Linked DNA regions of Homo sapiens. The protein of the gene in region 2 purifies or fractionates together with the protein of the main gene of each other region. This does not show direct contact. Each region holds a gene or a part of one and is shown on either strand. Other genes may lie near its edges.

The links.
Region 1: the proteins of CABS1 (region 2) and PLBD1 purify together in Homo sapiens (affinity purification with mass spectrometry; one large-scale study listed by BioGRID and IntAct). This does not show direct contact.

What each region holds. Positions count from the first base shown.
Region 1 is NC_000012.12:14,505,962-14,509,156, forward strand, and holds part of PLBD1 (phospholipase B-like 1 precursor), read right to left. Parts: intron 1,158-3,195; coding exon 972-1,157; intron 308-971; coding exon 201-307; intron 1-200. UniProt on the Homo sapiens protein: In view of the small size of the putative binding pocket, it has been proposed that it may act as an amidase or a peptidase.
Region 2 is NC_000004.12:70,333,581-70,337,861, reverse strand, and holds CABS1 (calcium-binding and spermatid-specific protein 1), read right to left. Parts: upstream 2,882-4,281; 5' UTR 2,823-2,881; coding exon 1,635-2,822; 3' UTR 1,516-1,634; intron 897-1,515; 3' UTR 746-896; downstream 1-745.

The DNA.
Region 1 (3,195 bases), on a different chromosome or scaffold from region 2:
TGTGATTTACTACTAAATGGCAGAGCAGGGACTTGAAGTTAGATAATAGGACCTACCACCAGAATCTCTGAAAAAGCTGATTCCTGGGTTGAGTTTATGGTTAGCGACATCGCTTCCTGCCATAAAAACCTGTGCAACTTTGCCTTTGGAGAGGCCTGTGTGCTGGTGGGAATTAAATTCAAAAGCCAATAGCATGTTACCTTTGTGTCATAACAACCTCCAGGACTTGGGTTAGGTGAGTTCAGGTCCTCACGGCAGCAGATGGTATTACAGGGGTCACCTCTACTGTAAGGATCCTTCTTATAATCTAGGAAACAGAAATGGGGAAGAGAGTGATTATTGGCTATTTGGAGACACACTTCTCCACAGTAAGGTTTTGAGGCCTGTTAAAGCCTAGATAATCAGAGAGTGTACTCCCACAGGCCTCCTCAGCCCAGTCTGCTTCCAGATAGAGACATCTCCCTTGGCTTGTGAGGAAGGAGTAAGTCCTTGGCCCCAGGCCCAGCCTGCCCTCAAGAACCTTACACAGTGAAAAATGGATGGGAAAGAGAACCAGATAAACGTCCATCAGCTGTTTCCAACAAAATAAATACAAATTTGACTTTGATGCTGTTCATACAAAAAAAATGAGGTATTTATGAACAATGTTTTGTTTTATTAGCTGCTGTTATCCTTGGAAGGAAACTTGTGTTTGGAGAAAAATTTTAAAGGACCCTCTATGAGTTATTTCTTCTGTGTTTTACAGATGATTTTTTTTTTTTCAATTAAAAAATGTATAGACTCTTCTCTTTCATTTTATAAAGGAGGCCAAAGCTCTATTTATTGAGTATAAAATGTACAATATTAGTTAAATACTTAAATAACTTCTTATAATTCCTTCTAGTACAGAGATGATAAACTTACATGGATTCTGTATCCATAGGGAAGAAAAGGAGTTTTGAAGAATGATTCTTGAGAAATATGCTACGTACTGTTGTATCGCATGATATATTTCATGGATGCCGTATCAGTCACTTTCCCTTGGTCACGCCGGAAAATTTTGGCTCGTGGAGCTAAATCATAAGAGTAGTCCAAGCCCAGCTTCTGAACTAACAGTGGATAGCCACTCCAGTTGTAGATTTTTTCATGGAAAGGAACATTGTAGGAGGGCCAATATCCTGATTTGGAATGGAAGGGAAGTAAGGGAGGGATTGACAGGGAAGGAGACAGAAAAGGAGAGAGAGCAAAAGAAATGTTATCCATGTTCATTTATTTTGAAAATGGGCACAGGCATTTAATTACAAAATAATGTACAGAAAATAAAGCTTTGCATGTGAACCCTGGCAGCCAAACAGCCTTTTAAATTTCCTAAATCAGCACAGCTCTAGGTTATTTCATTAGGGGAAGAAGAGCATCAGAATTCTCTGGTTTTCACCCAAAATTCTTAATCTCTAAGCCAAAAAACAACCATATTCTCTATAGAGCAAAATAAAGTATAATGCAAGGTGGTCTGGGGAGCTCATCTAAGTGGATTTAGTTACTGAAATGCCAAGAAATGGTTGTTCACAGTGTGGCCCTATAAAGGAAGATGTCAAATGGTAATCATGAAGTAGTGGAAGAACATAGCACTGGGAATAGAAAGCCTGAATTCTAGGCTCAGGGCTTAAGAATCAGGTCTTAGGCAGGCAACTTCATTTGTTTTGTTTCTGTTTCTTTTTTTTTGAAAGACGTCAATGGGGAGGGAGAGGAGAAGTCCATAATGTAAGGGGATTGGGGATGATCTTTTAGGTTACATTAGGCTTTTAATTCCTTTGACTCTAAACATTTATAAAGGCTCAGCTTCATTCAAAGCTTCATAGTGTGTGAAGGCCACATAGCCTACTAGTCACTGAGCACCAAATATGTGACACAGCTCTCTCTTGTAAAAGCAGAATTTCAGAAACATCCTGGATGACACTGGCCTGGGTTACTGCCTACAGAACAGTCAAGGAATGTCTCCACCATGCAGGGTTCTCTCCCACCTCCACATTCTCTCCTGGCCCTTTTCTGCCTTTCTCCTTTGTATTGTTGTACAGGACCTCCTCTTTAGGGGTGAGGTTACTGAGACAAAAAGAAAATGATAAGACATTCAGCCTTGCTAATTCTGAGACAGAGCCAGCATCAGAAGAACTGAGATATGGATGACATTGAAATTAAAGAAGAAAAACAGATTTGTTGCTAAAACATATCTAGGTTATATAGGCTCAGGAATTAGATTGCCTGGATTTGAAGCCTGGTTCTGCCATTATTAGGTATGTGACCTTGAACAAATTGCTTATCCCCTTTGTGCCTCAGTTTCTTCATCTTCATTAACTATTCAGCATTAAGCATCTTCATAAGCATGAGCATGAAATGCATTCAGATGGAGTGCTTACAATAGTATCTAATACTTGGTAAACATTAGATTATTATATTTCTCTTTGTGAAAACAGCTCAAATGAATAACGAAAATGTCTACTTTATACTTCACATTTCATGAAGCTTCGTGATTTAAAACAGAGCAACTTGGCCTGGTGCAGTGGCTTGTGCCTGTAATCCCAGCACTTTGGGAGGCTGAGGCAGGTGGATTGCTTGAGCTCTGAAGTTCAAGACCAGGCTGGGCAATATGGCAAGACCCTGCCTCCACTAAAAATATAAAAAAATAGCCAGGCATTGGGGTGCACACCTGTGGTCCCAGCTACTCGGGAGGCTGAGGCCCGAGAACCGCTTGAACCCGAGAGGCAAAGGTTGTAGTGAGCCGAGATCACGCAGCTGCAATCTAGCCTGGGTGACAAAGCGAGACCCTGTCTCAAAATAAATAAAGAAAATAGAGCAGCTTGTTTAATCTCACAAAAACCTGATGATGTATAAGTATTACCATCCCTTTTTTAAACAGAAGAAACAGAGTTTCAGAGAGGTCAATTGTCTTCCTTGGCTCACAAAACTTGACAGAATACAGGCCTTCTAACTAAAACATCCAGGGCTTCTATCACCATACCACAGTTGCTTAAATACGTTAGGAGATGTGCCCACCCCCGACCCCGACGCCCCCGCCTTTTTAATGGCTATATGATATCATGTATTTGTTTGGGCAAAACATGTTTCTTTCTGAGCTTTTCTTTACTCACAGTAAAATGGCAACAATAACACTTATGGGGTAGTATGTTACAAACATCAAACAAGAGAACATAAGTAAAA
Region 2 (4,281 bases):
ATTATGTTAATTTCTACTGTTCATTTAAAATACTTTGTAGAAACTTTTATAGAAAAATGATAGTAATCTTTTCACTGCTATGTAAAATAAAATTAGTTATTTACTTTTTAATTTTATGTTAATTTTCTTTGTTTCAGAATTTTAACTATTCATGGTGTCAAACCTATCAATCTTCTTATCACCTTTTCATATATGCTTACATTTCTCAGGTCCATTTGGATAGATATACAGGTACATTTCCTCCTAAGTTTTTGTATGGTTTTAGTTTTTACATTAAAGTATTTAATCCATGTAGAATTTATTTTAAAGTATGGTCTTAAAAAGAATTTAAAAATTTGTTTATTATTCCAACATATTTTTTTCCCAAATACTGATTGTTCAAGTAAGATTAACTATTATATCCCATGTTTTTGAAGTCCACTTCACTGTATAACAAATTTTTGTTTCGTAATTTGTTTCTGGGTTTTAACACACTGTTGTGATTATTCTAGTCTATAGTTTATCTAATGGTGCAAATCCCTATACAAACCCCCCGTACATAATATCTTTCATTCACTTGGTGTTTTGGCATTGTTCTTATTTCTTTTTTTAGTGTAATACAATTATGAATCTCTATAGAATAATTTTACTTCTGGGGATTAGAGCTATATTATTCTTTAAACAAACAATGAATTTTCATTTCTCTTTATTTCTCCTAATTTGAGAAGTCTGTAGTAGAATATCAAACACACCTACACACAGTAAATCAGTTGCTTGCCAAAAAGATTTATTGAAGAAAAATGAGCAAAGTGAAAACAGACCCATTTAAGTAGTCTGTGCCAGAAAAGAATGAAGATTTATGTCCTTGAATCGCTAACAAGAGTCATAAGAAGAGTGTGATATTCAGTGTTTAAGACCTGGAAAACATGGACAAAAATTCAGAAAACACATTTTAACAGAAAGAAAATTAAATTGATGTATATGTTTACAGAACATTTTTCTGACAAATATGCATATTTGTAAAATATCATTTTGCTTTAGTTTGTATCTAACATGTGCCAAGAACCCTATCATAAATCTTATGTATCTTACATGTGGGTGCTAAACAATTACTGAATTGTCTTAATTCTTATATGAGGATTAAAAATTTTTTAAATAGAAGAGAATCACTGATGAAATACTAATGAAAAAATTGCTTAGAACAAGCATTTTGGGAGAACTTTTTAGGCTATGGTAATGTTTTGGAGAGGTTAATTTGCTTCTCTTCATATCCTTAATTCTCACTTAAGTATAATATTGACTGTTAACTAAATGATATGCATCATTAAATGTTGTAGAAATGAGCCCCTACATTGCTCTGTCTTCATACTCCCTGAAGGCTAGGACGAAAAATTTTACATTAAGTAATTGTTAGAATATTGAAACTTTGTGATACTAGGGGGACCCTTACACTGCGGTTTTTTTTTCTAAGTTTCCGTAAATCTGTTACATGACCTGTAGTCCTAAGCATCTGCATTTATTGAGTCGAATACTTGCCTTAAATGCCCACATTCTTTCATTTCTAAAGGTTTTTGCTTGTTGGAAAAATTTCTTAGATGTTAAGGCTAGCTGGCTAGACTATTGCACAATTCTACATGGTATCCCTTTTGTTGCTTTTAAATCATGAACTCATCGGGTTCTTCTTTCAGTAGTTCAAAGATATCCGTTTCAGTTGTGGAGGTGTCTTCCTTATAGTCTGGGGTATCTAATACAGAGGTAGTTCCAGAAAATGGCTCAGTGATCTTAGGTACAGTCTCTGTATTATCAGTTTCAGACAAATCTTCTTCTGTAGATGATTCTTCCACTAGGTTTGTAGCTATTGATGCAGGGACAACGAAGTCATATCTGGATTCAACAGCAGTAAGCAAAACAGAATGGGTCTCTGCTTCATTTGCAGTATCTCTCTCCATCCAAATACTGGCTCCCTCGGTAGTTTCTTCATCAGTTAGCAGAGTATCTTCCCGTTTATCTTTGTCTTTTTCAGCAGAGGTAGTGAGTTCAAACACAGTGATAAACTTCTCATCAGAGTCAGTTAATGTAGCCACAGCACTGGTGTCATCTTCTAAAACACTTAGGTCAATTTCGGTTATTTTCTCTTCTTCAAGGGCAGTTATGTCTGGAATAGTAGTGAAGCTTTCTTCAGGAGCAGGAGGGATTTCAGCCTCAGGAATAGTGGAATCAGTGACCTGGACAGCCTCATCAGCAGGGACATTGGATTTGATGGAGGAATTATAATTGCTCATATCAGCTTCATCCTTTTTACGTGGAAAGGCAGGAGCGTCAGCAACACCAGCACTGCTGTCCTTTAGTGTGCCAGAGACTTCAGAGGTTATTGAGATCTCTGCATCTCCTGTGTCAATGGTAGCTAAGAGGATATCTTCTTTTGCTATGTCAGTGGAAAAATCTATTAAAGAAACAGTAGTAACTGGTGATGAAATATTCCCAATTTTCACTGGCATGAAATGTTCGGTAATAGAGTCTCTTGTTATGGAGTTTGTAGTGCCAGTCAGAGAGGTAATTTCTTTCTGTAGGTGAGTTGTTGACTTAATAAAGTCGGTCCCCATATCATCTTCTGATTTGAGTTTTTCCTTTTTAGCTGTCAGTTTGTTGTCTGTAGTTGTTGAAAAATCGCTTTCTAGCATATATTCATTTACTGAAGTGACGTGGTCTCCTTCTGAAGTAATAGTTGTTTCTGATTTGGGAATAGCATTGTCAGCCCCAAAGAAAATGGTTGCTGCAGTTGGTGTTTTACTGCTTTCTGTTGGAGGATGAGAATAAATTTTGGGCAAACCATCTTCAGCCATGGGGCGAAGTGGCACTGTGCACTCTCACAGGTCTTGCTTCTGGACTCAGTGGTATCTCTAGGCAGGAGAGCAGTGTTCATCAGAGTGATTAAAGCTTGGGTCATCATGGTGATTGTTGCATCAACTATGGGAGCAATGTCACTGGGTCTCCTTGGAGGTTGTTTCTAGGCTGCGATTGGTTATCTAATTGCAGGAATATTGAATGAAAAGACTATAGAGTCCGCTCTGATTATGAAATCAAATTCACAGCCAAGCATTTCAATTGCAGGGAACTTAAGATTTACCATGTTTCTGTTTATAAGGAAAATGTCTCCTGATATAGAGCTAGGGTTACTTGAAACAGACATAGCAGAGACTGCCAGGCACCTTTTGGGTTTAGAATTAGTAAGGAAAACTTTGGAAGCCACAAGTTTATCAGCATCAGCTTAAAGTCGTCTATCTTCCAAGCAAGTAACAGAGTATTTTTGAGGTGAAGCCATTTTCCCTTAAGATTCATAGTATTAAAAAAAATTGGTATCTAAAAAAATTAATGGTGTTTTTGTCAGTAAGTATAGCTACAGAAGGTAATTAGGTAGCAGGGAATTCAGTTAGTTCCCTTATTCATAACAGGAAGTCCCACTTTTTCAGTAGAGATAATAACTAATAGTTATTGGCCTGTTTGGGTCTTTTTTTTTTTTTTTTCTTTTTTTGTTTTTTGTTTTTTTTTTTTTCATTTATTTTTATTTTATTTTATTTTATTTTTTTTATTATACTCTAAGTTTTAGGGTACATGTGCACATTGTGCAGGTTAGTTACATATGTATACATGTGCCATGCTGGTGCGCTGCACCCACTAATGTGTCATCTAGCATTAGGTATATCTCCCAATACTATCCCTCCCCCCTCCCCCAACCCCACCACAGTCCCCAGAGTGTGATATTCCCCTTCCTGTGTCCATGTGATCTCATTGTTCAATTCCCATCTATGAGTGAGAATATGCGGTGTTTGGTTTTTTGTTCTTGCGATAGTTTACTGAGAATGATGGTTTCCAATTTCATCCATGTCCCTACAAAGGATATGAACTCATCATTTTTTATGGCTGCATAGTATTCCATGGTGTATATGTGCCACATTTTCTTAATCCAGTCTATCATTGTTGGACATTTGGGTTGGTTCCAAGTCTTTGCTATTGTGAATAGTGCCGCAATAAACATACGTGTGCATGTGTCTTTATAGCAGCATGATTTATACTCATTTGGGTATATACCCAGTAATGGGATGGCTGGGTCAAATGGTATTTCTAGTTCTAGATCCCTGAGGAATCGCCACACTGACTTCCACAATGGTTGAACTAGTTTACAGTCCCACCAACAGTGTAAAAGTGTTCCTATTTCTCCACATCCTCTCCAGCACCTGTTGTTTCCTGACTTTTTAATGATTGCCATTCTAACTGGTGTGAGATGATATCTCATAGTGGTTT